Regions from separate parts of the Homo sapiens genome. Here region 2 is linked to region 1. The links come from fine-mapping of genetic effects on gene expression. A gene starts in region 1. The other region holds a variant in brackets. All regions are shown on one strand. Distances are between the middles of the regions.

Region 1 (8,507 bases):
TCCCAGCCTGTTTCCTCATCTGGGAACGGCTCCGACCCGGGATGGGGAGACGTGCTGAGTGGCTTGAGGTGAGGAGTCAGGTCCTGGGGCTGAACCTGTGCCCCCTCCCCCCAAACGCTGGTCTGTTCCAGCCCAGCGGTCTGTGACTTGTCAGTTTAACAAAAAACAACCCAACTGCACCTCGGGTTACTCAGCCAGGGAAGCAAAAATAAAACGGGGCTTAAAAATACCAGCATGGCCCTTCCGGAGCCTTGGCCCCTCCGGCCCTTGGGCTGTTTTTTTCCGCAGGGTGGCCGGTGTTGTTTCAGTTTGGGGACTTTTGTTTTTGACAGACCTCAGTGGCCTGTGCCTCATAGGCGGGAGGGTTAAATTCAGACTGAAAGTGCCCTCCCCCAACCTGTTTCAACCCCAAACGCTGCCACTGGGCATGGGGGGGGGGGGGGAGCAGAATTTAAGGACATCTGTAGACAGGCCAGAAGAAACAAACCAAGGTCCCTGGGCTTCTCCAGGAACCCATAACACATGGCCCCACTGTACCAGCAGGCAAACCGAGGCCCCGGGCCTTTACAGCACCCGTCAGCGGCCGGTACCCCAGGGGGCTCCGGCATTCCAGCCTCACTGCACCTGCCTGAACTGTGTGACTTCTGAGGACCAGCACCCTCTGAGCCTCCGTTCACCCAGGTGGAGAATGGGCCGTACAGGGACAGATCCAACCACCTAAGACTCTGAAGAAGCCGCCCCGCCCTCCCCACCGGGCCTGCCTGCTCCGCAGTGATAACCGTGGCAGTCACAATGGTGGCGCTGCTGTCTGCTCGGTGGCCCATGAATTCCCACTCAATCCCAATCCAGCCTCCTCCTGGCCCAAGCTCGGCTTCTGGCAGCTTAACTTCAGCACCCACGTGTGACTAATTAACCACACAGTCAGTTTCATGCCCGCATCCTCTGCCCACCAGGGGAGTCCCGTATGGGGCAGGTTGTGTCTGCCCTGTTCACGGAGGGTGGTCCGCTCAGCACTGGGCACCCCCTCCTTTACTTCTTTGAGGAAGGATCTTACTCTATCGCCCAGGAAGGAGTGCAGTGGCGCAATCACAGCTCACTGCAGCCTCAACCTCCAGGGCTCAAGTGATTCTCCTTGCCTCAGCCTCCCAAGTAGCTGGGACCACAGGCATCTACCACCACTCCTAGCTAATTTTTTGAGTTTTGTTTTGTCTTTTTGAGAAATGGGGCCTCACTATGTTTCCTGGGCTGGACTTGGAACTCCTGGCCTCAAGCGATCCTCCCGCCTCAGCCTCCCAAAGTGCTGGAATGACAGGTGGGAACCACTGTGCCCAGCCCCCCTCCCATTTACTGAAACAGGGTCTCCAGGGTCTCACTGTCAACCAGACTGGAGTGCAGTGATCTTTTACTTACTTTTAATTTTTGTATCTACAATGAGGTAAGCGACCCTGATCAGGCCCATTTTACAGATCAGAAGATCAAGGCCGCATTTTGCTTACCCAGCCAAGCTGGGGGCCCAGGACCATGCCCCTGAGGACTCAGTTTCCCCATCTGTAAAGCAGTAGGCTGTAGAATGCTGCGTCCGGGCAAAAGCCCCATAGCACACGTGCTGCCGTGCGCTGTCAGCCTCCTGCCAGAGAGCGGCCCACTCCCCCAGCCCCACCGGGGCCTCCCATCCAAACAGCTGAGGCTCCATCGCTGAAGTATTCAGCAAACACTCTCCCCTGAAAACCTTCCCGTGAACTGTGGAGGCAAAGGGGTGTCGGGGGCTGGGCGGGGGTCCTGGCTCACCATGCTGAAGTCCAGGAGGTCACTGAGCTCCTTGTCTGTGCCCACAGGCGCCATCCTCTGCGGCTGGTTCATTCTCCTGGGGCCAGGGCGGGCACCTCAGGCCTGGAAACCCTGCTTGGTGGATGTGGGGACAGATGGACAGGGAGAAACAGGGAGGGGAGAAGAGTTGTGAGTGGTCAAAGCACAGAGTGCTAAAAGCCACCTAAAAAACCCTCAACCGCCCTGGGGTCTGAGTTCCAGCAGAGCCCTGGGGGCACGGGGAGCCCTGGGAGCAGGCGCAGGGAAGCTGGAATTCCAGAGTCTAGGTCCCTGCAGAGTCCTCCCCAGAGACCACAGGGAGTCTGAAAAATGGGGGGAGGGTGTGCAAATATAAACTCCCTAACTCCCCCAGGGAACACCAGGGCATCAAGTTGCCAAGTTTAAACTGCACGCAGGGCAGCCAGAACCTCTCCTTTCTCCAACTCTCTCATTTCCAACCAACCCCGGGCTTCCTCTGAGGCCCCCTACCCCCGGGAAAGGGAGGAACAGCCCGATCCTACCCCGCCCCGAGGGAAATTTGGTGATTCCCCCCTCCCCCAGCAGATGGCACAGCCCGTTGAAGACCAGGTCGCCCCCAAATTCAACATGAAGGAAATCCACAAGTCAGAAAACCACGAAACTCTTTTACAAGCTTCAAGACTTAAAGTGCCGGGGGTGGGGGGGACGCGCATCCTATGCAGGGACCAGCAAAGCTTTCCTCCACCCTCAATCTCCCTCCCCCCAAGAAAACCCCAACAGTATTCAGGAAAGAAAAAAAAAACAGCCCTAGATTGCTTTACTGTCGCGATGTATCCGGGAATTATTTTTAAGCAAAACTTTGACAACATCCCTTGCCTGCCCTCCATGAGCGGGGAGAGCGTCTCAAGACCAGGGTGCTCCCGCGTGGTCCCAGGGGGCTCCATTCTAAGATGGGGGATGGGGGATCCACCTGCCAAGACCCATTCCACCCCCAGAAAAAGGTACAGAGAAAAATTTCCATTCCAAAGAAATGCACTCCAGGCCCCTCCAGTCTCGACTTTCCCCAGGGGTCCCCAGGTGGGGACGGGGGCAGCCCGGGAGACACCTCCGAGGCTGGGGGTGGGGAGGAGCCTCCGAGGTCGAGGGAGACCCAACTTCAGAAGCAGAGAAATCCCCTCTTTGTCTGCCAACTGGAGGCCGGGTGTGAAGCGGGCGCCCCAGCGCAGCCCCTCCCCCGCTCAGTTTTTTTCTTTTTTGGAGGGCGTGTGAAACTGACTTTTTTTGAGGACTACGAAACCGCACTTTTTTGTGGGGTAGCTGAAACCGATTTTAAGACAGACTTAGTTGGGGGGGTGGCGAGCTAAAACGGGCATTCTACGGGAGCTGGAAGACTTCTGGGGCGTCCCAAGGACTTTGAGAGACTTGGAGAATGTTTGAAGCCACTTTGCACGGCGCCGAAGGCGGGGGGCGCGCTGGAACGCCTTTTTCCCGGGGGGAGGCGGCCCGGGAAGCCGGACCCCCCTCCCCCCGCAGCCGGTGCAGGCGGTGCGGCCCGGGAGCCTTTGAAGCTCGCAGCGCGGCCGCCGCCTCGCCCCGCATTAACGCGGAGCAGATGTTACCCGCGCGCCCCCCCCCGGCCCGCCCGGCCCCGACCAGCGCCTGCAGCGCGCGGCACCTTCCCCGCGCAGACAAAAGGACGTCCCTCCCGCGCGCTCCCCACCCCAAACTCCGGCGCCCGGGCCGGGCCCCCCTCTACCCGAGAAAGGGGGCGCCCCGGGGTCCCCGTGCGCCCGGGCTGGGGGGGACGGTCCTCGCGCCTAAGTTGCACAGCCCGTCCGGCGCCCCCCGCGCCCCCGCCCGGGGCTGCTTAAAGTTTCCCGAAGTGCCCGGCCCGACGGGGGCGACGCGGGCCTGGCGAGCTCCGGGCTCCTCCACGTCGCCGCCCCCCCGGCGCCGCGCGAAGTTGGAGAACAATGACTCCCGGGCCGCGGGGCGCCCCCCGACACCGCCCCCGCCCCAACTTCCTCCGCGCCCCCCCCCAACAAGCGCGCGCGGGGCGGGCCGGGGTTCCCTGGGCACAAAGCACGGGGGTACCGGGCGCGCCCCCCGCCCCCCGCCGGGCTCACCTGCTGGGCGCGGCCGGGCACGCGGCGCGTGGGGGGGGGCGGCGGCATGAAGCGGGGGGGCCCCCCCCCGGACAAAGGTGCGTCGCGGCCGGGCCCCCGAGGGTCGCGCGTGGGCGGCGGCGGCGGCGCGCGTGGCCCGGGCCCCTCCCACCCCCGCGTGGCCCGTCCCGCGGGGCCCGTGCGCGCGGCCGGCCGGGGCGCCCCTGGGGCAGCGGCGTGCGCGGTGCCCGCGGTGCCCGCCGCCGCGTCGGCTCCGGCCCGCTACGCCCGCAGCCGCCGCCGCTGCCTCATCTTCCTGCGGCGGGAGACATGTTCCGCCCCCCGCCCGCGCCGCCCCGCCCCGCCCCGTGCAGGCCCCGCCCCTGCCCCGCCCCCGAGTGCCCCGCCCGGCGGCCCACGCGGATCCCTCCGCCACCTCCGGGCGGCTCGGGCCCGAACGCCCTAGCTCGGCCTCTCGAGCACCCTCGTGAGGACCCCGAATCCCGTGAGGTCCAGAGCCTGGGAGCGGGGACGCGCAGAGGAGGCGGTCGGGCCACGGCGCGGGGAGAAATCACGGACTATCCCCGTCCGCGGAAGCACACACGAGCTGTGCGCTTAGTCCATGACGCAAGCGAGTAAGGCCCGTGAGATTGAAAGCTAAGGCAGAGCAGTCTGGTCAATCGGAAGCCGCGAAAGTCTGATGGGCGGGGATCCTAGCCATTCGTGGTGAGGCCCCGCCTCCTTTCTTCTCGGCCCCGCCCCTCAGCAGAGGCGGGACTCTGCGAGCGAGAGGCCGCGAGAGGCGGCCGGGGTGGGTCCTGGAGTTTTGTTCTCAGGTTGGCGTGGCCGCCCGCGCGGAGCCTTCTGCTTGGTTATATTTGCGTTCCTCGGGCCGGCCCCGCGTGCTGAGTGGTGCGAGCGGGTATCACGGCCCCGAGGGGGCTACGTCAGACCCATTTTCCCGGCGGGAAAACCGACTCTGGCTCCGGCTCTGGGTCAGAGAGCCCCGCGGGGAGTCTCAGCGGTGCCTTTGCCGACTTGAGTCTCCGTCTCGGCATCTGTGAATTTGGACCTGACTTTGGACAGAACTCAGGCCAGATCTGGCTTCCTGATTCTTAGTAGTCCGTGTCTACATTTTAGTAAAAAGTGACCCCGCCTAGGATCGGGCGCCGTGGCTCCTGCCTGTGATCCCAGCGCTTTGAAGGAGGCCGAGGCGGGAAGATCGCTTGAGGCCAGGAGTTCGAGAACAGCCTGAACAACATAGTGAAACCCCCCCCACCCACACCCGTCTCTAAAAATATTTAAAATAATTTAAAATAATAATTTAAAAAGTTGACCGGACGCGGTGGCCCACGCTTGTATTCCCAGCACTTTGGGAGGCCAAGGCGGGCAGATCACCTGAAGTCAGGAGTTCGAGACCTCTCTGGCCAACACGGTGAAACCCCATCTCTACTAAAAATACAAAAATTAGCCGGGCATGGTGGCGGGCACCTGTAGTCCTAGCTACTCGGGAGGCTGAGGCAGCAGAATCGCTTTCACCCGAAAGGCGGAGGTTGCAATGAGCCGAGAGCACGCCATTGTACTCCAGCCTGGGCAACAAGGACGAAACTCCGTCTCAAAATAAATAAATAAATAAGTAAAATAAAATAAAAATACAAAAATTAGCTGGGCGTGGTGGCATACACCTATAATCTCAGCTACTCGGGAAGCTGAGGCAGGAGAATCGCTTAAACCCAGGAGGCAGAGGTTGCAGTGAGCAGAGATCGCAGCACTGCACTCCAGGCTGGGCGACAGAACGAGGCTCCGTCTCAAAAAAAAAAGTAAAATAACTAAACAAATAAATGAAAATAACACAATCTCCCAGGGCTCCCTGGGGCCCCAAAGGGAAATTTACACTCCACTCCCAGCCTGGGAAGATGCCACCATCTCGCTGGCCCGCTTGGCTCCAGCCATCCTGCCCTCTGGATGGTCCAGAACTTGCTAAGCTCATCCCCACCCCGGGCCTCTACGTTTGCTTTGTCCTCTACCTGGGAGGCTTTTCCCACCCCTATCTGGAGCCCCTGAGTCATCACAGTTCAATGCTGCACCTATGCCAGGCCGGCGGGGAGGCGGGGCCACAGGGGCCCCCCACCAAAGCCACAAGCCCCTCCTGCTATACACCCAAACTGGGCTGTCCACAGTCCGACCCTCCGTGCCCAGAGAGTTCCACGTGCCGCAGGTCTGGGGAGAGGGCTGTGGGTCCCAGGGTCTGTGCTGCAAATCCCTCATCCCTCTCCACCTCACTGTGACCTCAGGCAAGTTCGTGCTACTCTCCGGGCCTCGGTTTCTCCATCTGGACAGTGGAAGGGGGGAGTCTGGCACACAGTAGGTGCTCACAGCTGATGCCTGCCTTCCTCAGCCGCCCCCCACCCCCGCAGAGGCCTCTCCGGAGCCAGGGTCTCCAAGCAGCTCCAATCCCACCCCAGCCTCCTCAGCCCCCGGCCCTTCCTTGTGGCCCAGCCCTGACCCCATGGGTCTGAGGGTGTCTGTGGCCGGGTCTGGCTCTCCCCATTCCAGTGTAGGGAGCTCACTGTGGGCCACTCCCCACCCACACTCAGGGTCCAAGCCATAGTGTGGCAGCCGGAGTCCTCCCGAGGAGCCCTTCAGTTTCACCCACGGAAGGGAAGCAACCATCCAATCACGGACTTCTTCTTCTTCTTCTTCTTCTTCTTCTTCTTCTTATTATTATTATTATTATTTTGAGAAAGAGTCTCGCTCTGTTGCCCAGGCTGGAGTGCAGTGGTGAGATCACAGCTCACTGCAGCCTTGACCTCCTGGGCTCAAACGATCCTCCCGCCTCAGTTTCCCGAGTAGCTGGGACCACAGGCACGCGCCACCACACCCAGCTAATTTTGTATTTTTTGTAGAGACGGGGTTCTCCCTATGTTGCCCAGGCTGGTCTTGAACTCCTAGGCACAAGTGATCCTCCCGCCTTGGCTTCCCAGAGTGCTGGGATTACAGGCGTGTGCCACTGCGCCGTACAAGACTATTCAATTATCGGGCACTGACAGCGAACGGGGCCTTGTGCCGCGCATCGTAGCACTGTGGACAGTGATGGACTCAGTCCCTGCTGTCCCGGCAGGATGACCCATGAGGGACCCCTTGTCTAGTCCTGAATGTGGCTCTTTCCTGTGAGGTCCTCCTGCCTGTGTGGTTCCACGTATCGTACAGATGAGGAAACTGAGACTAGGGGTCTCCTCCCTGGGCCCCAGGGCACCCTGGGGCTCGCGCCTGCCAGGAGGTTCCGCTGGTAACCACAAGCCACCATTGTTTTCCCCAAGGAGGTCAGTCCTGGGGCTGAGTCACTGGGTGGAGCAGCCCGTGGGGGCCCCCCACTTGGCCACCACCTCTGCCCAGCCCCGAGGCCTGGGTGCTCCCTCCAGGGCCCTGGTACGGGGACAGGCAGCAAGCTATCCTCCTGACTGTGGCCTTTGTTTTGCTCTGGGGCCGGGCAGGAGGAGGAGCAGGGCCTCTGCACCTGCCGCCTGTTCCCTCCACACCTACTGTGTGCGCCCCCGCCAACATGAACCACGTATGTCAGAAAAACTGAGGCCAAGGACAACTTCCCACTAGGGAGACACAGAAGCGAGGGGGGCGAGGGGCGGCGATGGCGAGGTTTCCAGAGACAGACGCAGTAGGTGTGCAGGCCACAGCTGTCCGCAGAGAGACTGGGCTTGGATTAGGACTTCGGGGCCACCCTCCAGATTTCTGTTTCCATTTGTCCCTAAAGTGGGCACCTTTGACTTCTCCCAGGGTATGAACACACTCCCCCAACCCCCAGCGCCCTCCAGCAGGGGCGGAGAAGGGAGTGGCGGCCCAGCACTTATCACCCACGTCAGGCCCTGGGACAAACCTCGCTCCGGCGTCCACTGAGCACGGGCAGCTGGGGCGATCGGTGTCGCCTCCCAAAGTGGGGGCTTCCTGCTCGAGCTCAGACCTCCAGTGAGGGGCCTGATCCCAACACGACCAGATCAGGACCACCCCACAGAGCCCTGGGCTGGGACTCGGCCAGGGTAGGGCCCATTCCCTTATTCTCCACAACTTCGTTTTTATTTTATTTTAGCAGAGATGGGGTGAGGTGGAAGGATCGCTTGAGCCCAGGAGTTTGAGACCAGACTGGACAACACAGCAAGACCCCATCTCTTAAAAAAAAATTTTTTTTTTTAGATGAAATCTCACTCTGTCGTCCAGGCTGGAGGGCAGTGGTGCCAGCTCAGCTCACTACAACCTCCACCTCCTGGGGTCAAGCGATTCTCCTGCCTCAGCCTCCTGAGTAGCTGGGATTATAGGTGCCCACTGCCACGCCTGGCTAATTTTTGTATTTTTTTATAGAGACGGGGTTTCACCCTGTCGCCCAGGCTGGTCTAGAACTCCTGGCCTCAAGCGATCTTCCTGCCTTGGCCTACCCAAAGTGATGGGCTTACCAGCATGAGCCACCACACCCGGCCCCATTCTTCCTGCCTTCTGGGAGGAGGCGTCTCCAGGCTTGCTGGTTGGACCTGGGCAGGGAAGCCTCCTGAGATTGGGAGTGCTAGGGGCTTATGATTGTTCTCCCCTAGCGGAGGGAGGAGATTCTGG
Region 2 (8,000 bases), 31 kb before region 1:
GGCACACTCACAATGGGACCCCAGCCGCTCACACCACACATGTACCCCACACACAACATAAGCCAGCAAACCAGCGTGTAAAGAACACGCTAGTGGGACGCCGTGTTCATGAAGCTCAAGAACAATAATTGCAAAACATGTGGCTTAAGGGTACACAGTGCCCCAAATGAATGCGGCCACTCTGCATTCAGCAGGGCCTGGGCCACCCCCAAAACCCGGGCTTGGGGAGTCCAGGAATCAGTCAGGGCTCACATGGAGCAAACCAGCTGCCATCCCCTGAGACCCCCGTACCCTGAGGGGGAGCCTCAGAAATGCACCCGCTCCCCACAGTGAACTCTGCTCCAATCGGCCAACGCCAGCCACCAGGACCAGCCCAGGCCTCAGCACACGAAGTGAAGGACAGGAAGGAAACAGAGGGGAGCCTATGGGTGAAAGACTAAGCTTGGGGCTGCCCCTGGAAACTGCTGACCTGTGGGTCCGGACCCTTCTCTGGGGTGGGGCCGTCCTGGGCACTGCAGGGTGCTGAGCAGCATCCCTGGCCCCCACCCACTCCATGCCAGGAGCTCCCCTCAGCCCTGACAACTGTAGATGTCCCCAGACATCACCCAGTGTCCCCTGGGGGCAGAGCCGCTGCGGTGAGATGCCCTGGCCTAGGAGTGATAGAATCAAGGTACTTGGAAAGTCTGCCTGGAAAGCAGGCAGGATTCCTGGGCTGGTGGAAGGCACAGGGCCAGGACAGCGCCCACAATGACCCCACCTTCTCCTGGGCCTCTCATGGGTGTCTGAGACACTCAACAATCCCCAGGCCCAGGTCCAGATTTGTCCCCAACCTTTTCCTTTGTCCCCTTCCTTACGGAGTTCCCAGCCCCAGTGTCACCCACAGCTCGGGCCAGAAATCCCAGAGCCACCCTGCCTTCTCTCACCCTCAAGTCCTGTCCATCACAAATCCTGTGGGCCCCGCCTTCAGGAGATGCAGGGCCCACCCACTGCTCACCCCTCCAAGGCCCCTGGACCAGCCCTGTGGCCTCTGCCTTGGTCTCCCGGTGCCACTCATAGTCTGTCCTCCAAGCAGCCACCAGAGGGTATCTGTGAGCACCTGGGTCAGGTCCCATCCCTCCTCAGCCCTCCACGGCTGCCACCTTTCTCATGGCCAAATCCCAAGTCCTCCCCGCAGCCCACAAGGCCCCGCATGACCTGCCCTGCCCCGCCCTCCCCCCTTCCCTCTCTCCCTCTCCTCACTCTGCTCCAACCCCACGGGTCTCCTGGCTGTTCCTCCCAGGTGCAGTCCAGCCCCAGGGCCTTTGCCTGGGCTGCGCCCTCTGCCTGAAACCCTCCTCCTCCAGGTACTTGCCTACTCTTGCCTCCTCCCAGATGCTGCCCAAACACCACCTTGTGGCCTCATGGGCCACCATCTTCAAAGCCATACAAAACCCCCAACCCACCGCAGCCACTTCGTTCCTTCTCCCTGGCACCTGTACTGTGCAGCGAGCTCCTGGTCTGTCTCCCCTGAGGCAGAGGCATCCTGCTGCACCCCTCGCCCCTTCCCCAGTGCTGAGCGCTGCCAGGCACACAGCGTCTGGGAGCAGGCGAATGAAGAGGCAGCCCAGAGCTGTCCACCTCACACGCCCAGGGCCAACGCCGGCCCCGCCGGTCTTACCCACCCTCCTGAAGTTGCTGACTGGGGCGCCCATGTCACCAGGTGCCCCCACGGTGACACCTGCCCTGGGCTCCCACCCTGACCCCCACCACTAGAGTGCCTCAGTTTCCCCAACTGGAACCAGGAGTCGGACAGTCCCAAGCTCAAGGGCTTACCACTGTAGGAGTCGGGAGGCCGAGACAGGTCAGGGAGGGTGCCTGGCTGGCTGGGGAGGGCCGCGTGGTTGTGCATGAGGCTGGTGCTGCCTGCGAGGCCGTCCTCGGGGTGGCTGCCTCCAACCTGCAGGCGTGGGGAGACGGGTGCATCAGGGGGAGCCGGGTCCCCGCCCACTGCCCAGCTCCACCCTCGCCCAGCGCTCACCAGGCCTGCGTGCCGCCCGCCCAGTGACATGGGGCCGGTGAAACCTGAGGCCAGCGCCCCGTGGCCAGGCAGCAGCGTGTGCATGTCGCCGGCTGTGCCCACGGCGTGGCTGCGGAGCACGTGGATGGCCTCGTCCAGGTGGTCTTCTATCTTACTCTGCTGCAGGGTGGGGGGATGGGTGGTGAGGGGCCCAAGCCGAGGGACCCCACAGGCCTCCATTCATGTCCCTTCCGCATGCAAGTGGCCGGTGGTCCCATCTTCCCCTTCCCCAGGAAGCTGCATATGCCAGGCATCTGGCGCCCGGGAGCACACACAAAATGTGTGTGCCTTGGCGGCCACGAGGCCTCAATAACAGCTTGGGGCTTATTTACAAGAAACTAACAAAAAGGTTTCTCCTTCTCAAGGAGCGTCTGTCCTGCAAATTCTGTCGGGGAAGGGTGGGGTGGGGCGGGGCAGGCACTCACCAGGCCGTGGAGACCCCCGTCGTAGCTGGGCGATAAGGCACCGGGGGCTCCTGCTCGAGGCCACTGTGACGTTCCTGGAAGGGAGTGGGGACGTGAATGGGGTGCGAGGGGCGGGGTGTGAGCATGGCCTGATGCCCATGGGGAGGGATTCATGAACCACCCCGCCTGTCCAGCCTCCGGTGATGCCCAAGATGGCCATTCCGGGGCACCCCACACTGATGCAAAGCTGCTCGGCCCCGCCAGGCAGGGATGCTGGGTGCCCAGTGGGTACTGCCATTCCTATCTCTGAGCCTCAGTTTCCCCATCTACAAAATCCAACTCCCCACTCAGAGGATAAAGTGGCTCGGCAGCACACAGTAGGGGGCTCCTCCCCATGCTGCCCCACCCTGGCTGACCCACGCTGGGCTCCAGCAGCAGGCAAGAAAGTGGCAAGCTCCAGGTGGGACCAGACAGGCCGAGGTGAAGTGAGGGTTCCTGGCGCTTCCCATGGGGGCAGAGATGAGGACTCACGGGTGTTTTTAAACACCCAGACCTTCTGGAAACCTCCAGTTCTCACTCCCCCTCCTCCTGTACCTGCCCCCGACCCCCTGCGGATAAGCAAGCACGTCCTCACAGGGATAGGAGGGTCTGCCCTCCCATGCCGGAGCACCGCACAGGGTAAACAGTCAGTACCTAATAAATACCCAGTGGGTGAGCAAATGGCAACACGCACACATTCTAGAGTCCAGGCCACAGCCCTGGCGATGCTGGCCCCATCGGACCTGGGAGCTGCTAGGCACGCCAATGTCCCCTCATGTTCACGCAGTGTGAACTGCCAGGTCCTGCCTCCTGGCTTTGCCTGTGCTGTGACCTAACCTGGACGCCACCTCCCAGCCCTCCCTCACTGCCTGGTTATGTGCTATAGCCTTGGAGGGCTGGCTTGGAGGCTGCCTCCACTAGGCAGCTTTCCTGGATTGCCCAGTGGAACACAAGCCCATGGGGGACTCCCTTCCACCGTCGGTTCCTGACCAGCGATGCCACGGGCCCTTGGGGGCCATCTGCTCCCTCCCCGCTGCCTGCCTATCCCAGCAAGGTGCAGACACCAGAACCAGCCTCCCCTCCCCCGCAAAGCCTTCACAGACCTCAGCCTCCCCTCCCCCCAAACCCTCACAGACCTCAGCCTCCCCTCCCCCCAAAACCCTCACAGACCTGCCAGGCCCTGGGGGGAGCCCACGGGGGTAGAAGGGCTGGACGAGAAGTTATTGCTTGAGTGATCCGGGGAGTAGATCTGCGAGGAGGACCAGGAGAGATGGGCGGTCAGGGGCCGGCCTCTCAGGTCACTTGCCTGGCCACCCCCCATGCCCCACGCCTCACCGAGGCCAGTGCTTTGCCGAGGGCATCCCCGGAGCTGCCAGCTGTGGTCCCTCGGGAGCCTGTGGGTGAAGAGAGGTGAGGCCCACGCAGCCCGGCCTGGGTGCTGCCGCCGACGGCAAGCTCTCCTGCGTTCTGCCGTCCTGCACAGACACTGCTGCGCCAGGGAGAGCAGCCTGACTCGGGTCCGGTTTCTGTCTGACCCCCTGAAACCAGCCTCTGCAGGGGTTGAGGCACTGGGGACAGGCCACTGGCAGGGGACCCTGGGTGGGTGAGTCCCCTTCTGGGCCTGGGTGGGTGAGTCCCCCTCTGGGCCTGGATGGGTGAGTCCCTCTCTGGGCCTGGGTAACTGAGTCCCTCTCTGGGCCTGGGTGGGTGAGTCCCTCTCTGGGCCTGGGTGGGTGAGTCCCTCTCTGACCCTGGGTGGGTGAGTCCCTCTCTGACCCTGGGTGGGTGAGTCCCTCTCTGAGCCTCTTTCCCAGCTGTAAGGCGGGAAAGCCGCTCCTCAAAGATCTGTTTCCAGACATCCCAAGCCCAACGCACGTGGCAGGCCCTGCAGACAGCGGACAATGAGAACTGACAACAACCCGCTCTCAGGGCCAGCAGACGCGCCTGCGCCTCCCGTGGAGTCCTCGCCACCCCCCACCCAGACCCTGCCTGGAGCCCAGTGTCCCCTCGGAGAGGCCGCATCCCAGGGAGGGGCCATACCCAGGAGGCTGTCGGCCCCGCTGACAGGCGGCGTGTGGCTGGAGACGCCGCCGTACGTGGCTCCGGGGGCTGAGGAGAAGGAGGATGCAGATGGGAGCCCACCGTTCACCTCTGCTCCATGCAGCTGGTAGCCCTGGGGGGTCAGGCAGGAGGAGGGTGGGTTAGATGGGCACTGCCACCCTCCGCCCACCCCCTGCCCCCTGCCCTGGGTCCTACCATACGCTCGTGCTGGTGCAGGCCACCAAACGTGCTGCTGCTTCCACTGCTGCCCACCGGGCCGCTACCGGGCGGGAGGGGCAGCGGGGATGAGCCCCCACCCAGCATGGGCCCGAAGCCCGCCTGGCCCGGGGGACTCCAGAGCTCGGCTGAGGGGTGCAGGCTGCCATCTGTGGAGGGGAGCTGGTAAGGTGGGGGCCGAGTGGGGAACCCCAGCCCTGCCCTACCGTCCCTGGCGAGCCC[C/A]CGCCCTGCCATGTACCTGCCACGTAGAAGGGGGCGGGATAGGTGCTGCTGGGGGTCTTGGCGGACGGGTAGGCGGTGGCATCCCTGCCGTAGTCCTCACCTGAGCTGGGTGGGTACACCTGCGGGCGGGTGGGCGGTGGGGGGTGCAGTCAGGACGGAGGGACCACGATCAGCCCATGCACCTTGCCGGCCTCCTGTCCCCTCCTGGTAGCACATCTACCACCCCGTTTCCCTTCCCTGTAAAGCCACCCCCCTTTAGGTAAATCCCAGCCCCTGGCCAAGTTTGAGGTTCTTATGATGTCCTGGTCTCTCTCTCCTACTCCTTTTCCAGCCCCCACCTCCCGCCTCCCTGAACTTCTGACCTTTGTACTTGAGGACTTGGATCTGGCTCTGCCTACTAAACCTTTTTCCTCCTTAATCCAGAAAACTCCTATCGACCCATCAAAACCCCAGCTCCAACACCCCATCCCATCCTTCTCCCTTGTTCCCCAGCTGGAATCAATCTTCCAGTGCTGAGCTTCCCTTGGTCCCAGAGCAACATTCGTCCTTCACTAAAGTAACAGGAAGAGGGGTCTGTGAGTAGCGCCAGCTCTGACTGGTTGGCACTGCCTGGACTGTGGGGCTGGGGCCTGTTGGTAACGTCTGCTGCTGTGCTGGAGCGGGAAGTATGCTGGGTGGGCCTGATGTTGTAATAAACTGGGGGGCGGTTTCAGGGCAGAGAAAGTGCACCCTGGGGAAGGAGGGGAGTGAGTGATACTGTTGGGAGCAGAGCCTGACCACGCCTTTGGCCTGGGAAGTCAACCTGACTCTAACCCCGAACCCAGGCCTGTGGGGAGCTGGTCGGCTGGAGGGGTGAGGAGATGTATGCCCAGGGCTCTTGGGGCCAGCACAGGCACTGGGCAGAGGGTGGTTGGTGGCTACTGAGCCAGGGAATCGGCAAATTCCCTCTCCCTCCAGCGAGATGAGACCGCAGGAGTGTGGCACAGCAGCCTGGACCATCTGCGAGGCCTGGTAGGGAGGCAGGGATGCGGGGCAGCCTGAAGCTGTGAGGATGTAACAGGGAGCCCCAATTGCGGCACCCCCCGCTTTTTTTTTTTTTTTTTTTGAGACAGAGTCTCACTCTGTTGCTCAGGCTGGAGGGCAGCGGCATGATCTTGGCTCACTGCAACCTCCGCCTCCTGGGTTCAAACGATTCTTCTGCCTCAGCCTCCCAAGTAGCTGGGATTACAGGCACGCACCACCACGCCCGGCTGATTTTTGTATTTTTAGTAGAGATGGGGTTTCACCATGTTGACTAGGCTGATCTAGAACTCCTGACCTCAGGTGATCCACCCACCTCGGCCTCCCAAAGCGCTGGGATGACAGGCATGAGCCACCACACCCAGCACAATTGTGCCCTTTCTAAAGGGGCCTCAGCCACCAGGACTGCCTTTCTCTCAAAACAAGACAGACAGAGGCTGGACCTAGGGAAGGACTTCCCCGCCTTCCCTTGGAGGCGGCCTCGGGTCAGAGCTCAGATCTTGGCTCAGAAATCACAGGGGGCCTGTCCACTCAGGGCCCACCCCGCCATGTGTGTTCCCAAGCTTCGCCAGGACACAGGGCCTGGCACTGCCACTGACGAGCTGTGGGGTCCCTTCTCCCTCGTGCGACTCACCGAGGATGGAAGACCCGGCGGGACCTTCCGGACCTTCTTGGGCTGCGTGTCTGTTAGAAGCAAAAGGGGTGAGAACCGGCCACCGGCCATGAGAACAACCCCTGCCCTACACCCTGGAGGAGAGACCCTCACAATTCCCGTTTCATATATTAAAAACCTCGGGTCGGCTGGGTGCGGTGCCTCATGCCTGTAATACCAGGACTTTGGGAGGCCAAGGCAGGCAGATCACGAGGTCAAGAGATCAAGACCATCCTGGCCAACACAGTGAAACCCCGTCTCTACTGAAAATACAAAAAGTAGCCGGGCGTGGTGGCGGGTGCCTATAATTCCAGCTACTCGGGAGGCCGAGGCAGGAGAATCACTTGAACCCGGGAGGCAGAGGCTGCAGTGAGCCGAGATCGTGTCACTGCACTCCAGCCTGGGGACAGAGAAAGACTCCGTCTCAAAACACAACAGCAGCAGCAGCAACAACAACAAAAAGCCCCGGGTCTATTTATACGGCTCCAAAGATGTCGAAGAACCACGATGGTTTTCTCCCGCGACGCGCAGTTTGGAAAACGAGGAGTTGGTGGATTCTAAGCCAAGGCTCTGCTGAGAAGCCCCTTGGCCCCACCCTCCTTCCAAGATGGCCCCGACTATCCCACGCAGTCAGGCTTCACCACTAGGGGCTGCTGTTTGCAAACTCGCCTACAGGATAAAATCCGTAACCCGGAAACCAGCACTCAGGCGCCTTCCTGATCACTCACGGACGTGCGCACAGTGGGAAAAGTTCGAGTGGCCCAGGCGCATGTGCCCAGCCAAGGCGGAACAGAGGCCTCCTCCCGCATCATGGGGCTCCTGTCCTTGGTCTATTCAGAGCCACGATCTTTTACGTTTTTGTGCTTTTTGTGGGTGATTTCACGCTTATTTTTTTCAGGCAGGGTCTTGCGCTGTTGCTCAGGCTGGAGTACAATGGTGCGATCGCAGCTCATTGCAGCCTCGAACTCCCAGGGTCAAACCATCCTCCTGCCTCAGCCTCCTGAGTAGCTGGGACCACAGGTGTGTGCCACCATACTTAGCTAATTTTTAAAATTTTTCGCAAAGATGGGATCTCCCTATGTTGCCCAGAATGGTTTGCAACTTTTGGCCTCAAGTGATCCTCCTGTCTCGGCCTCCAGAGAAGCTGGGACCCCAGGTGAGTGCCGCCATGCCTGGCGACTGTGCTGCCTGGAATGGGCCCCGGGTAGTTCAAGGCGCCGTCCAGTGCTCCTGAGCCCGAGGCTGTGACGTGCCTCGCGGGGGATGCCCGCGTGTGCAGCAGGGCTCAGTGCAGAGGAGCCACGATGCAGCCCCATGAGGCATCTGACAC

What was found.
Region 2: its variant is fine-mapped to the expression of TCF3 in whole blood (TOPMed, PIP 0.94).

What each region holds. Positions count from the first base shown.
Region 1 is chr19:1,648,389-1,656,895 of GRCh38, forward strand. TCF3 (transcription factor 3) reads right to left here and starts at 4,227. Exons shown (of 19, transcript NM_003200.5): 1 at 3,912-4,227; 2 at 1,789-1,899. The coding sequence starts at 1,860. RefSeq lists enhancers at 1-105, 446-755, 768-1,267, 4,686-4,735, 4,856-4,965 and silencers at 3,146-3,265, 3,246-3,468, 3,276-3,505, 3,596-3,675, 4,206-4,335 and 1 more.
Region 2 is chr19:1,617,299-1,625,298 of GRCh38, forward strand. TCF3 (transcription factor 3) reads right to left here. Exons shown (of 19, transcript NM_003200.5): 8 at 6,653-6,702; 9 at 5,015-5,117; 10 at 4,756-4,925; 11 at 4,540-4,672; 12 at 3,835-3,893; 13 at 3,670-3,748; 14 at 2,482-2,555; 15 at 2,018-2,176; 16 at 1,813-1,936. Among named protein-coding and RNA genes, the nearest start is that of UQCR11, 16 kb to the left of the region's middle. The variant C/A (reference allele first, on the strand shown) is at 4,999.